Linked DNA regions of Homo sapiens. The protein of the gene in region 1 interacts with the protein of each later gene in a pairwise test. Each region holds a gene or a part of one and is shown on either strand. Other genes may lie near its edges.

Region 1 (7,572 bases):
AGCTTTTTATTTCTGGCAGCCACCTCCCATGCCGTCATTCCTTAGTCTGCCCCTTATGCTACCATATGTTAAAGAGCGTGGTACTCCCCAATGTATGGTGTGTGAGTTTTGGCGGGGTGAAGGTGTGGGGAAAGGGTATAAATAGAACAAAAGATCCAAGTTCCCACAGCAGTAATTGTCACTGACCTAAGGCTAAGGCATAGAAGCTGACTAGGGGTTCTTTTATTTGGATCTTACATCTCAGAAAGCTCTTTATTTAAGTAAGAACCAAAGTTATGTGACATGAAAGGACTCTAGAAAGGTAAAAGGTAACAATTCTCCTCTCATTGGTCCTGGTGCTTTCTGGTCCAGAGAAGGAAATACTTGGAAGCCATGAGGATTGCCTTTTAAGCAAATAAAAAGATCAGGACTTAAGCACCTGCAATAACAACACTATAAACAAAAAATAAAATGTTGGAGGTAAGAAAGGACACCTCACATAAAGGCATGTCAAAACAAGGGATGGGAGACATTGCCAATCATAGACTCTACTATGCCTCATCATTTCCTTCTACCTAACTCCCAATGAAAATGACTGCTGGAGTAAGGCACTGTTAATAATAGGAATATGTTATATCCTTCAGGTGCGTGAAAAACCACTTTCATAGACACTGTAAGGAAGCAACTTAGAAATTTAATAGCAAGAGAAATATTTCAACACTTCTCTGACTGTGGAAGGAGTTATTTTGAAGGTATTGAGCTCCCTCTGTCAGATCCTTTGTGAATTGCTTGTCAAGCAGATGTGTTACCTTCTTTCTAAAGATTCCCTTCAGATTACTACATCATTAACAGAAACCTGTGAAGCTCTAAATTACACTGCTATAACAAAACTATACTGAAATAACTATTTCACATATGATTGAACTTTAACAATTTTAGAGAAAAATATACTCTTATTTTAAGAATTAATTTGGAAAACCTATAACAAAACCAGACAAGAAATGCATTCTAAGTAGGTGGTTTGCTAACTGTGCTCCTTTGGGGTTCCTCAGGAGATGGCAAAAGTGGGGAACCACGTGTGGGCTGAGGTGTAGATGGAGTGGGGAAGGCTGGAGGGTCAAGAGCCTCCCTAATTTTTCTTGAACCAGAGCTACTTTGATTTTATTTGTGCTACATCTCTAAGAATCCACAGCAGATTTCATGTCAAAAATAGAGTTCTAATGCTGAAATGCATTTGAAAGCCTCTGCTCTATACAGCTATTATATCTGCCAAAGGATAGTGTTAACATACTCTGACATCTGAAGATCCAGGATTTCCAACATTTAGAGCAACTTCACCTATAAGCCCCACCTTCTCCCATGTTTTCCCTCTCTTTTCACCCTCTCATTTTCCTCTTCTTCCCAGCCTCCTCATATATCATCTCTTCCCTCATTCTTAACTCTCTGTGGCATAGAACTGCTGTATATTTGTGTTTGTGTGTTTACCACTGGTCAATAACAAGCAAGCATGTTAACTATTCTTCTTAAATTAAGTTTCTTTTTCTTGTGGATGGTGTAGTCAATCAATAAAGATTTTTCTCAATGATTATTAGAAGCCTTGACTTGTTTCCCATAGCACAAGTGGAAGGAGAACAGGAAGAATCTGCAAAAGATGTTTGTGTTACAAATCAAAGGAAAAATGTTATACTTCTGGGCATAAATCTTTAAATTTAAGAGGAGGAGCCTTTAACCTTAAAGTGAAATATCACAGACTTCAATATCCAGAGGCAAGTGGATAGGCCATATAGGTTAGAAAGAGCTCTTAAACCATTCTACTGACATAAGTAGCCATGCAAGATAACCAGCATCTACTAGGCAAAGCCACCCAGTGAAAACACAAATTAGAAGTCTAAGATTTAGTCTCTGCCCAAAATAACAAGGTAGAGAAATGTCTATCTCCAAAAGTGACCCAAAATGACAAAAAAAAAAGCAAGCCATCTCTGGCTCTTAATACTCAGTTCACAAAGAGAAGAATAAACAATGAATGGTATAAGAGCTTAGACGTCAGTTAGTATGAAGAGGAACAGTATGTGGAATTTGTATAGGCAGAAACCATTTCAACTGGGGGGGTGTGGTGGAAGGTATAGGGCAGAGCAACTAGTTCTGCCAGAATGGCTAGGAAAAAACTGGGAAATACAGAGAGGAGCCAGATGGTAGCTCACTTTATCCTACAAACCCTTGGAAGCTGTCAGGCATTGCACAGACAAGGAAATGGCAGAGCAAAAAGTCTGAGGGTAACCAGGTGACTTTCACAATTACCTGAAAATTCATGACTTATATTTATACAGAGCTTTCACGTGCATAATCTCACTTAATTTTCACAACAATCTTGATTGAAATCTATATTTCTGAACTACTTCCTCTCCAAACTAGACCAAACTAAGTCCAGCTAATAAAACCAAAGCTCAAGTTCTATTAAGATTTAACTCAAGATATTCAACCCCAGGGACTCTCGGTTAGCTTTTTGAAGATGATGACTGAGGGATAAATCACCTCATCTCCATTGCTTTTATTTTTATGGATTAAAACCATAAAACTGGTTTTAATCAATCAATAATTAATCAGATTGGCATAATCTGTTGTTACAAGATTATAAAATCCAACTTTTAACCTACCTTCTCTTTGAGAGGCTCGTGACATGTGTTTCTCAGAAGAATTAGAATCACTATGATGACAAGGTGAGCCAGAAACTCTAGGACCAGATGAACTTGATGAAGTGGTCAAATCTTAAAAATATAAAAAATTCTGACAATAAACCTAGCATAACTCTGGTAGTGGCTCTTAACTTTTTAATTATCTACTCGAACCATAGTTTTAAAATTTTGAAAAAATGCTCATATATCACTGGCCTATAAGACTGAGGAAGGCAAGACAGCTCTTTGAAGTGTTCTAAGATCTAGTCCCTTTCTGAATCTTTTATATCAAAGACTTGACTATGTGAAATAAAAATGAAAAACCAAATAATCATAGGAGCGTCTTTGGATCCTCATGATTTCTGTACTAAAATGGAACCCAAAAATTCCATGAAAATGAAAACTAAGCTCTTAAGCCTATTGTTTTATGTTAAAATAGGGTCCAAACAACAGGCCCATTACCAGAAACATGAAGAGATTCTTCTTTAAAGTATACCAAAAACTTCCATTATCATTCTTGAAATTACGTGAATAGTCTTTTTTTTTGAGACAAGGATCTTGCTATGTTGCCCAGGCTGGACTCCTAATTCCTGGGTTCAAGTGATCCTCCTGCCTCAGCCTCAGCCTCCTGAGTAGCTGGGCCTAAAGGCATGCACCACTGTGCCAAGTTTATGTGAATACTGTGAAATGTGACATAAAGTTTACATTGAAAAAAATAAAATGAGTATCAGGTAGTGGAGTCTGATATATTACTCCAAATAGCAGTGTCTATTTCATCATCACATTTTGCTAGTGGTCCCATACCTATGTTAAGAATTCTTACTAGTCTAATTTCCTGTAATGTTATTTAGTATCAGAATTACCATTAGAAAACTGAAAACCTTGTTGGTTTTTGAGTTGAAATAGGCCAACTAGACATTCAAAATCACTATTTCTCACTAAGTTAGAGTTGCTTATCATGTTTAACTTAAAAGGCAAATTTGAATCTCAAAGGATTATACTCGTATATTTATGAAATCCCTTGTTTGCAAGTAAGTTGGTAAAACTTAAATTTCTACTTTTGACAGTTATGCCAGGCACTGCAGTACAATGATGTCTGTACTTTCCCAAAGGAATTTTCAGAAGTGGTCCTGTGCACAAGGAGAAAGATTCCAACCTTTTTTTTCATTTCCTTTTTTTTGGACACAGGGTCTTTCTCTGTTGCCCAGGGTGGAGGGCAGTGGGGCACAATCATGGCTCACTGCTGCCTCAACCTGCCAGGCTCAGGTGATCCTCCTGCCCCAGCTTCCTGAGTAGATGGGACTACAGATGCATGCTAGCATATCTGGCTAATTTTTGTGTTTTTCGTAGAGACAGGGTTTCACCATGTTGCCCAGGCTGGTCACAAACTCCTGGGCTCAAGCGATCTGCTCACCTCAGTCTCTCAAAGTGCTAGGATTACAAACGTGAGCCACTGCACCTGGCTAAATTTTTAAGTTATTTGTAGAGATGAGGTCTTCCTATGTTGCCCAGGCTACCCTTGAGTTCAACTCCTGGGCTCAAGCGATCCTCCCACCTTGGCCTCCCAAAGTGATGGGATTACAGGTGTGAGCCCCCGCACCTGGCCCCAACCATTCAAAGCTGCCTTTTAATAGCAATTTATTAGCATTCTATGTTCCAAATGCTTAAGTCTTTTTTCCCCTGGATTTTTGTTTATAATGTAAATGATGGGTATGTCCCCACACCAGTCCCCTCTTTCCCAAAGGTAGATGAAATATAGTCTTTTTTAAATCACATAATGTTGATAAAATACAATACGTACATTTTTCTGAACCCTAAATTCTCTTAAGTCTAACAAAATCAGCAATGGGAGAAGAGACAGAGTTTTAGCAAAAGAGCGTTTAGAGAGTAATGAGATAAGATGGCACCAGCTACCTGTGTCTGGACATCTGTAAGTCTAGGATACAGATAAAACTAAAACTCTATATTGACCATAATTTAATAAAAGCTCTGCTTGATTCCAGAAGGACTTAAGACCTTGTGCCATCACTAATTTTTGAGATAGTGATGATTCAAAATTACTGATGAAAAGATCCTGTGGCTAGCATAAAGCTAAAAGAAAATACTTTAGGGTCAGCAGTTATTCCTCCTAGTCCATTTGTGATTCAGAGGTACATATGAATGATATGTCAGAGATACATACAAATCATTATACTTGCTTAGATAAAAACCCATCAATGAGCTTTCTAAAGAATGCCTTTTAAAAAACTGTCTTCCCTTTTCCTGCTATCATTTTCAGAAAAGAAACCTATACCATCTCTATGTTTGAGATTCTCGAGAAAAATCTTTTTGACCAAAAAAGAAAAGCTTACCTGAACTTGAAGTAGTTCTTCTTGCTCTTAAAATGGGATAGCTGCCTACTTCTAAAGACTTAGTTAAGTCAAGGTCATGCAAAATTAAGAGATATCCAGAGGACGTTGAAATCAACATTTTGGAACAATCTGGTGTTAACCTCATTCGCATGAGAAAACGTGTGTGAAAGAATTTCTTATGTGGACACCCATCTTCTGTATACCTACAGGAGAAACCAAGCCAACAAAATCTAGAGTTATCATAAATATAACGGTTCAGTAATAATCATATTTTTTGCCCTTCAAAATAAAATGTAGGGAGGATGAGAAGAGCTTGGTCAATGGGCTCAAAATTACAATTAGGAGGAATAAGTTCTAGGGTATTAATATTGCACAGTAGGGTGATGACGGTTAATAGTAAGATACAGTATATTATAAAATAGCTAGAAGAGCGACTGTTACATGTCCTTACCACAAAGGAATGATAAGTGCATGCTAATACTGATTTGCTCATTATACAACATATATGTGTCAAGACATCAAATTGTACCCTGTAAATATGTGCAGTTACAATGTGTCAATTAAAAAATATTTGAGGCCAGGCATGGTGGCTCATGCCTGTAACCCCAGCACTTTGAGAGACCAAGGCAGGAGGATTGCTTGAGCCTAGGAGTTCAAGACCATCCTGGGCAAGATGGTGACCCCATCTCTACAAAAATTTAAAAAATTAAAATAAATTAGCTGAGTGTGGTGGTGTGCACTCATAGTTCCAACTACTCAGGAGGCTGAGGTGGGAGGATCACGCGAGCCTGGGAGTTTGAGGCTGCAGTGAGCTATGATCACACGACTGCACTCCAGCCTGGGTGACAGACAGACAGACCCTGTCTCTATTCAAAAAAAAAAAAATTGAAACTTCAAAAATGAGATGTCTTTCCAATAAATTTTACTTTTTATGTTAATAATTATTATTTAAAATAATACATGTTGTTTTAATCAATTGTGGACTAATAATATTGTAATGATCATTAAATCCAGAAGAAATGTAACACTAATAGCCCTGTGGTCACAGAAAACAATTTTTAAAATTAATGTCAGTTTACGTGCATATTTTTGATGCCAATAAGAATGATCAGTAGGCTAGGGGTGGTGGCTCACACCTGTAATCCCAACACTTTGGGAGGCTGAGGCGTGAGGACAGATGGAGCCCAGGATTTCAAGACCAACCAGGGCAACATAGCAAGACCCTGTCTCTACAAAAAATAAAAAGTTAGCTGGAGACTGAGGTGCGAGGATGGTTTGAGCCTGGGATGTGGACGGTGCAGTGAGCCATGATTGCGCCACTGCACACCAGCCTGAGCATATAACAGGATATAATTCTATGAGAAAATATAATGAAAATGAGTACCAGAAGAAAAAGTTGTAAAACTTCCAGCTGTTAAAAAAAATAGAATTTACAGTCAATGTATATTGAGATTTACATACATGCTTAACAATCTTTTTGCTCATCATTCCTTCGTTCATCTCCAAAATTCCTTTTTTGATCCTTTCTTTCTGAAGTATATCCCTCAGAATTTTTTTTTTTTTTTTTTTGAGATGGAGTTTTGCTCTTGTCGCCCAGGCTGGAGTGCAATGGTACTGTCTCAGCTCGCTGCAACCTCTGCCTCTCGGGTTCAAGCGATTCTCCTGCCTCAGCCTCCCAAGTAGCTGGGATTACAGGCACGCACCACCACACCCATGCCTGGGATTACAGGCATGAACCACCATGCCCGGCCAGAATTTTTTAAAGTTAGACTTTGTTGAGGTAAATGCTCTCGCTTTTTATTGTTCTGAAAATCTTTTTTTTTTTTTTTTGAGACGGAGTTTCACTCTTGTTGCCCAGGCTAGAGTGCAATGGCGCGATCTTGGCTTACTGTGAACTCCGCCTCCTGGGTTTAAGCGATTCTCCTGCCTCAGCCTTTAAAAAAAATAAAATTTTTTAATGGTGTACATGATGTTTCAAATATGTATATATTGTGGAATAGCTAAATCAAGCTAATTTATATATATATATATATATATATATATATATATATAACCTCACATACTTAACATTTATGATGATAACACTTAAAATCTACTTTTAACAAATTTCAATTATATATAATAACAACAGTAAATTGTCATTAACAGTGGTCATCATGTTGTACAATATACATCTCCCAAGTAGCTGGGATTACAGGCACCTGCCACCACATCCAGCTAATTTTTCACATTTTTAGTAGAGACGGGGTTTCACCATGTTGGCCAGGCTGGTCTCAAAATCCTGACCTCTGGTGATCCACCGCCTTGGCCTACAAAAGTGCTGGGATTATAGGCGTGAGCCACCATGCCCAGCCTGTTCTGAAAATCTTTATTTCACTCTTTTAAGAGACTGGGTCTCCCTCTGTTGCCCAGGCTGGGGTGCAGTGGCATAATCATAGCTCACTATAACCTCAAATTCCCAGGCTCAAGGAATCTTCCCACTTCAGCCTTCCGAGTAGCTGGAACTACAGGTGTGCACCACCACTCCTGGCTAATTTTTAAATTTTCTGTAGAGATGGGGTCTTGCTGTG
Region 2 (7,572 bases), on another chromosome or scaffold:
CTGAGGCTGCAGTTGGCTCAGATTCTCTGAACACTAGTTCAGAAAATGCAGGGCCTGTCTGGGCTGGGACCCCCTGACCTCCAGGAAAGCGGGGGCTTTACCCAGGGAGCACTGTCCCAATTTCATCCAAAAGCCCCCTCGCCTAGCCCAGCCCCTAGGTGTACATACCTGGGTCTATTATTTTCATGTTATTCTTCACATGATAGAAGTTAGAGACATTGAACTTGTCCAAATTGGTGGGGTCCTGTGGCAAAAAGAGAATGCCCAGCAGAGTGAACCCAGCCTACGGCCAAATGGCAGCCACATGCAGCAAAGGACGGCCAGCTGTCAGAGGTGTGGAAGAGGCCAGGGCTACACTGAGGTTGGGGGAGTCAAGCAGGGCATGAGGGAGGAGGTGGTCTGCCCCAGGCAGGGCAGCAAACAGGGGCAGGGGCAGGGACGGGGACGCAGCCTCGCTAGCTGCTGGCTGAGCTGTGACCTTCCTCCAGGCACATGGCTAACGAGCATTCATTGCTGTTAGGGAGCTATCGGACCGGAACGTGGGCAGCCGTGGGCCGACCTCTGGTTAGAATGGGACAAGCCACAGAGGTGATTGACTCAGCAGGCCACGCTCCAGCCAGCACCTGCTTTTCTAAGTCAGTGTTTTTCATTAATTCACTTGGGGTTCTCTGACACCTGCAGGGACCCTGTGCCAGATACAGGGTCTTTGCAGAGCTCATGCCAGCTCCTGCCCTCGAGGCGCTGAAGCAGAGCCAGGCCTGCAGAGTGGCTATTCAGATGCCTCAGGTGGCTTTGAGGACAGATATGAGGGGCCCTGACGTGGGGGTAGGGCCCTGTAGAGGCCTGGGCTGGCTGCAGGTGCTGAAGGCAGCTGGGGCAGGCAGGCAGGGGACACTCACCTGGAGGGTGATGATGTCCTGCCGGGAGAAGGGCTCGTCGGTCAGCAGGTCCCGGAAGTTCTTGGCCTTGATATTTAGCTGTTCCACTGCCTATAGCCAGGAGGAAGTGGTTTTACGATGCCTGCCCCAAGCCTTGGCACAGGGGACTGCAAGCAGGGAGGCCTGGAGCTGGCCCCGACCATGGCACGATTTGAGAGGCATGAGGAATGAGAGAGACAGCAGTGTACACCCCACTGGCTGAAAGCAGTGGCTCCCACAGAGGCGGAGCTGGCTGGGCCTCAGACGATGAGCCAGTTCACCCTCGCAGCAACCTTCCTGCAGGAAGCTCTTGTCTGCACATTGATCAGCAAAAAGACTCAGCGAGTCACCCACCCACTCGCTGCAGGCTTTGCCAAGCTCCTCCCATGCACAGGTATGGTGCCAGGCCCCCGTGGGCAGGGGCTGTGCACACAAGATGCCTGCACTCCTGCGGTGCGGTCTAGCAGAGCCCTCACTCCACTAACGAGGACTGACCATGCCAGTTTGTGCAGGCTTCTGGCAAGAAGTGGCTCCCAAGGCCCCTGGAGCAGCGCTGGCCACCTACACCCCACAAACGTCCAGGTGCAGGATTGACAACGGCGCAAAGGTCGGCTTTCCCGCCATGTGGGGCCTGCCCCGCCTCACCCAAGAGGAGGACCCATGTGTGAACACGGCTGTCTCCCCTCTCCCTACACCCACTCCCTGCCAGAACTCCTCCAGGGGACAGCTCCCTCCTGGGGGCAAGTGACTCCATCCAGATCCGGGGCGAGCACTCCCCTCACAGCCCTAGAGGCCTGTCCTCAAAACATGGGTGCCTTCCCAGCACCTGGGCTTTGCTGAAGACGCGGAAGGACCTCTTGGGGTTTAAGGGTCCCTGCTGGGCAGCCAGGACTGCCTGGATTCCGAAGGATGCACCTCCCCCAACCCTTTTTTTGACCTGCCTGAAAATGGGGAGGCTGCACTGCCAGAGCTTTGCTAGATGACCATGCCTGTGGCTGTGACTGTAAACCCCACGAGGACAGGCCGTACACGTAGCACACAGCCCAGCCAGTGTATACTAGGAACACACAGCAGAGATCTCCCCACCGCTGTCTCCACGCCCCGGAGCGAGGACACACCTCATAGGCGTAGACGTTGCCGGTCGTCCTCACAGCCACGATGTGGGTGTTGTTGGTGAACACGGTAAACAGCACTGGGCAGTGGTACTTCCCTAGAGAGAAGGCACACACAGGGAGGCCAGTCACCTCTGTGGGCTGTGAACATCCCAGTGAGGACCGCAGAGGGCCAGGGCAGGACAGAACTCCAAAGTCAGCGATGGGAGGAGGTGGAACCCCATGTCAGCTGCCAGAGCAGGGAACCATGGGGACAGCTGCTCACCCCCTCAAGCCCTTCCACACCGTTAGGAAACTCCTATTCATCCTGCAAGACCCAATCCCGGCATCGTCTTCCTCAGATCCTCCAGCCCACCCCTGGGTGATCACCATGCTAGCCTCCTCCTCCTACTGAAGTTGGCCCTCGGCAGGAAACAACCCATGTTCCAGCCCTGACAGCTCTACCTCCTCTCACCCACATCCTCCGCCAGCCCCCTGGTCAGCTCTTCCTTCAGAACCGCCCATCCCCTTGCCTGCCTACTGTCTTTTTTTTGTTTTGCTCTGTTTTTTTTTTTTTTTTTTTTTTTTGAGATGGAGTCTCGCTCTGTCACCCAGGCTGGAGTGCAGTGGCACAATCTCGGCTCACTGCAAGCTCCGCCTCCCAGGTTCACGCCATTCTCCTGCCTCAGCCTCCCGAGTAGCTGGGACTACAGGTGCCTGCCATCATGCCCGGCTAATTTTTCTGTATTTTTAGTAGAGATGGGGTTTCACCATGTTAGCCAGGATGGTCTCGATCTCCTGACCTAATGATCTGCCCACCTCGGCCTCCCAAAGTGCTGGGATTACAGGTGTGAGCCACTGCACCCGGCCTTGTTTTACTCTGTTTTGAGATGGAGTCTTGCTCTGTCACCCAGGCTGAGGTGCAGTAGCGTGATCTCGGCTCACTGCAACCTCCATCTCCTGGGTTCCAGCGATTCTGCTGCCTCCGCCTCCGGAGTAGCTGAGACTACAGGCATGCATGCGTCACCATGTACGACTAATTTTTGTATTTTTAGTAGAGACAGTGTTTCACCACCTTGGCCAGACTGGTCCCGAACTCCTGACCTCAAGTCATCTGCCTGCCTCAGCCTCTCAAAGTGCTGGCATTACAGGCATGAGCCACTGCACCTGGCCTTGGTTACTGTCTCTCTGCCTGTAAGTCCCCACCCAGTGGCCAGGGGCCCTGTCAAAGTGCCCACTTCTGGGGATAAAAAAGTAAGTGCAGTAGGGGGACTCAGAAACATCAACCACATGTATTTGTGGGGACTTTTTCTTTTTTTTTTTTTTTGAGACAGAGTCTTGCCGTTGCCCAGGCTGCAGTGCAGTGGCATGATCTCCTCGGCTCACTGCAAGCTCCGCCTCCCGGGTTCACGCCATTCTCCTGCCTCAGCCTCCTGAGTAGCTGGGACCTACAGGCGCCCGCCACCATGCCCGGCTAATTTTTTGTATTTTTTTAGTAGAGACGGGGTTTCACCGTGTTAGCCAGGATGGTCTCGATCTCCTGATCTCGTGATCTGCCCACCTTGGCCTCCCAAAGTGCTGGGATTACAGGCGTGAGCCACCGCACCTGGCCTTGTGGGGACTTTTTCTTAAAAAAAATCCTGATTTGAGGCCAAGTTAGAGCCTCAAATTAGTTAGAGCCTCAAGTTAGAGGTGGCTCACACCTCTAGTCCCAGTGCTTTGGGAGGCCAAGGTGGGAGGATTGCTTGAGGTCAGGAGTTTGAGACCAGCCTAGGCGATAGGCTGAGACCCCGTTTTTTTGTTTTGTTTTGTTTTTTGAGACAGGGTCTAGCTCTATCACCCAGGCTGGAATGCAGTGGCGCAATCACAGCTCACGCAGTCTCAACTTCCCAAGCTCCAATAATCCTCCCACCTCAGCCTCCCAAGTAGCTGGGACTACAGGTGTGCTCAACCACACTGGCTAATTTTTAGGTTTCATTTTGTAGAGACAAGGTTTCATTATGTTGCCCAGGCTGGTCTTGAACTCCTGGGCTCAAGCAATCCTCCCACCTTGGCCTCCCAAAGTGCTGAGATTGCAGGCGTAAACCATGGTGCCCAGCTGTTTTTTTTTGGTGGGGGGATGCTGACGCGGGAGGATCACTTGAGCCCAGGACTTCAAGACCAGCCTGGGTGACATAGGGAAACCTCATCTCTACAAAAATAAAAATTAAAAAAGTAGCTGGGGCTGGGCGCGGTGGCTCACACCTGTAATCCCAGCACTTTCGGAGGCAGAGGCGGGAGGATCACCTGAGGTCGGGAGTTTGAGACCAGCCTGACCAACATGGAGAAACCCCGTCTCTACTAAAAATACAAAATTAGCCAGGTGTGGTGGCACATGCCTGTAATCCCAGCCACTCGGGAGGCTGAGCCAGGAGAATCGCTTGAACCCAAGAGGCGGAGGTTGCAGTGAGCCGAGATCACGCCATTGCACTCCAGCCTGGGGAACAAGAGCGAAACTCCATCTCAAAAAAAAAAAAAAAAAAAATTGGCTGGGCATGGTAGTACATGCCTGTGGTCCCATCTACTTGGGAGACTGAGGTGGAAGGAGCACTTGGTCCTGGAAGGTCGAAGCAACAGTGCGCTCTGATCATGCCACTACACTCCAGCCTGGGCAACAGGGCAAGACCATGTCTCAAAAACAAACAAACAAACAAAAATCCTTCTGATGTGAAAACTGTTTTTTAAATTGGGGCTTCAGCATCATGCAAGGGGGTACTGGTGGGAGCAAAGACAGAACTGCACAGATGGGAGACAGCAGGGGCTGGAGTTGATGATGGGCACAGGGGAGGCGTATCACACCTCCTCACTCCACTTTCACGCACGGGGAATTCCAATTAACAAAGAAACAGGTGGGGCGCAGTGGCTCACGCCTGTAATCCCAGCACTTTGGGAGGCTGAGGCAGGTGGATCACTTGAGCCCAGGAGTTCGAGACCAGCCTGGCCAACATGGTGAAACCCCGTCTCTACAAAAAACACAAAAACTAGCTGGGTGCAGTGGTGGTGCCTGTAGTCCCAGCTACTTGGGAGGCTGAGGTGGGAGGATCTCTTGAGCCCAGGAGGCAGAGGTTGCAGTGAGCTGAGACTGTGCCACTGCATTCCAGCCTGGGTGACAGAGACCTCATTTCAAAAGAAAAAAGGAAACACAACAAAAGAAGCTGACTGCCAGGTCAAAGTTTTAAAAGAAAAAAAAAGGCTGGACCTCATTCCTCCCTCAGTGGCTCTCATCTTGGAGCGGAAGCCCAAGTCCTCCTGTGGCTCCCAGGCCCCACAGGACTGCTCTGCACACCATCCCCACCCCTGACCTCTGTCACCACATCCCCTGCTTCCACCGCTAGCACACGCTGTTCCAGCCACATTGGACTCCCAGCTGGGCACAGACACCCTTGAGCGTGCGCCCACCTCAGGGTCTTTGCACTGGCTGTGCCATCAGCCTGGCCCTGCACTCCCCCGATGCCCACACGGCTCTCCCTCCCTGCAGCGGGTCAGGGCGGCCCTCTCCCCTCCCCCTGCTGTGCTCTACACACACAAGCAGCCTCTGGCACACCCTGCTGAGCTGCTCTCTGGTGTTCTCCCCCACCAGAATGCATGCTCCTCTCATTCAGGAGAGACACAGCCTGTTGTGCTCTCTGCACATGGCAGGCACTCAATAAATATTTGCTGTCCCTCCCTCTCCCTCTCCCGCTCCCGCTCCCCAGGGTCTCCCTCTGATGCCGAGCCAAAGCTGGACTGTACTGCTGCCATCTCGGCTCACTGCAACCTCCCTGCGTGATTCTCCTGCCTCAGCCTGCCGAGTGCCTGGGATTGCAGGCGCGCGCCGCCACGCCTGACTGGTTTTCGTATTTTTTGGGTGGAGACGGGGTTTCGCTGTGTTGGCCAGGCTGGTCTCCAGCTCCTAACCGCGAGTGACCTGCCAGCCTCGGCCTCCCGAGGTGCCGGGATTGCAGACGGAGTCTCGTTCACTCAGTGCTCAATGTTGCCCAGGCTGGAGTGCAGTGGCGTGATCTCGGCTAGCTACAACCTCCACCTCCCAGCCGCCTGCCTTGGCCTCCCAAAGTGCCGAGATTGCAGCCTCTGCCCGGCCGCCACCCTGTCTGGGATGTGAGGAGCGTCTCTGCCCAGCCACCCATCGTCTGGGATGTGAGGAGCGCCTCTGCCTGGCTGCAACCCCATCTGGGAGGTGAGGAGTGTCTCTGCCTGGCCGCCCCGTCTGAGAAGTGAGGAGCCCCTCCGCCCGGCAGCCGCCCCGTCTGAGAAGCGAGGAGCCCCTCTGCCCGGCAGCCGCCCTGTCTAGGAAGTGAGGAGCGTCTCCGCCCGGCAGCCGCCCCGTCCGGGAGGGAGGTGGGGGGCAGCCCCCGCCCGGCCAGCCGCCCCGTCCAAGAGGGAGGTGGGGGGCAGCCCCCGCCTGGCCGCCGCCCCGTCCGGGAGGTAGGGGCGCCTCTGCCCGGCCGCCCCTTCTGGGAAGTGAGGAGCCCCTCTGCCCGGCTGCCACCCCATCTGGGAGGTGTACCCAACAGCTCATTGAGAACAGGCCATGATGACGATGGTGGTTTTGTCGAATAGAAAAGGGGGAAATGTGGGGAAAAGATACAGAAATCAGATTGTTGCTGTGTCTGTGTAGAAACAAGTAGACATAGGAGACTCCATTTTGTTCTGTACTAAGAAAAATTCTGCCTTGGGATGCTGTTGATCTATGACCTTACCCCCAACCCTGTGCTCTCTGAAACATGTGCGGTGTTCACTCAGGGTTAAATGGATTAAGGGCGGTGCAAGATGTGCTTTGTTAAACAGATGCTTGAAGGCAGCATGCTAGTTAAGAGTCATCACCACTCCCTAATCTCAAGTACCCAGGGACACAAACACTGCAGAAGGCCGCAGGGTCCTCTGCCTAGGAAAACCAGAGACCTCTGTTCACTTGTTTATCTGCTGATCTTCCCTCCACTATTGTCCTATGACCCTGCCAAATCCCCCTCTGTGAGAAACACCCAAGAATGATCAATAAAAAAAAAAAGAGGTTTGGAGAAATAAAAAATAAACAATAACACACACACACACACACACACACACACACAAAATAAATAAATAAATATTTGCTGAATGAGACACACACACACACACACACACACACACACACACACTGCTGATCACAGGAGGGGAGGCAGCCCACCCTCGGCCACCAGGGTGGAGCGCCGTGTCCTCCACCGACGTCAATGACGTGCTGAGGTTCACCCATTCATTCACCTGCGAATGCTGCACCGACTGGGGACCGGGCTCTGGGCTCAGACAAGCGGGGCAAAAGGGCCTTGGCCTCAGGTGCTACAGCATCTCCCTGGAATGCATGCACCCAGTAAGCAAGGACAACCCCTAAGCCATAGCATCTCCACAGGCAAAAGACCTGGACTAGAACCTAGCACAAGATCACCACCTGGGCAGGGGTGGGCTGCACAACTCATCCGGGCCTCTGGCCACAAGAACAGCGGAAGGTGTGTAATGGGCATGAAGCAGGAGCCGCAGCACTGGGCTGGGCT

What was found. Proteins that work in one complex are often made in the same cells at the same time.
Region 2: the proteins of DCAF10 (region 1) and PPIL2 interact in binary tests that used the Homo sapiens proteins (3 or more experiments, as listed by UniProt).

Annotation. Positions count from the first base shown.
Region 1 is NC_000009.12:37,852,413-37,859,984, reverse strand, and holds part of DCAF10 (DDB1- and CUL4-associated factor 10), read right to left. Parts: intron 5,206-7,572; coding exon 5,003-5,205; intron 2,745-5,002; coding exon 2,634-2,744; intron 1-2,633. UniProt on the Homo sapiens protein: May function as a substrate receptor for CUL4-DDB1 E3 ubiquitin-protein ligase complex.
Region 2 is NC_000022.11:21,675,854-21,683,425, reverse strand, and holds part of PPIL2 (RING-type E3 ubiquitin-protein ligase PPIL2), read right to left. Parts: intron 2,128-7,572; coding exon 2,036-2,127; intron 990-2,035; coding exon 900-989; intron 245-899; coding exon 169-244; intron 1-168. UniProt on the Homo sapiens protein: Has a ubiquitin-protein ligase activity acting as an E3 ubiquitin protein ligase or as an ubiquitin-ubiquitin ligase promoting elongation of ubiquitin chains on substrates.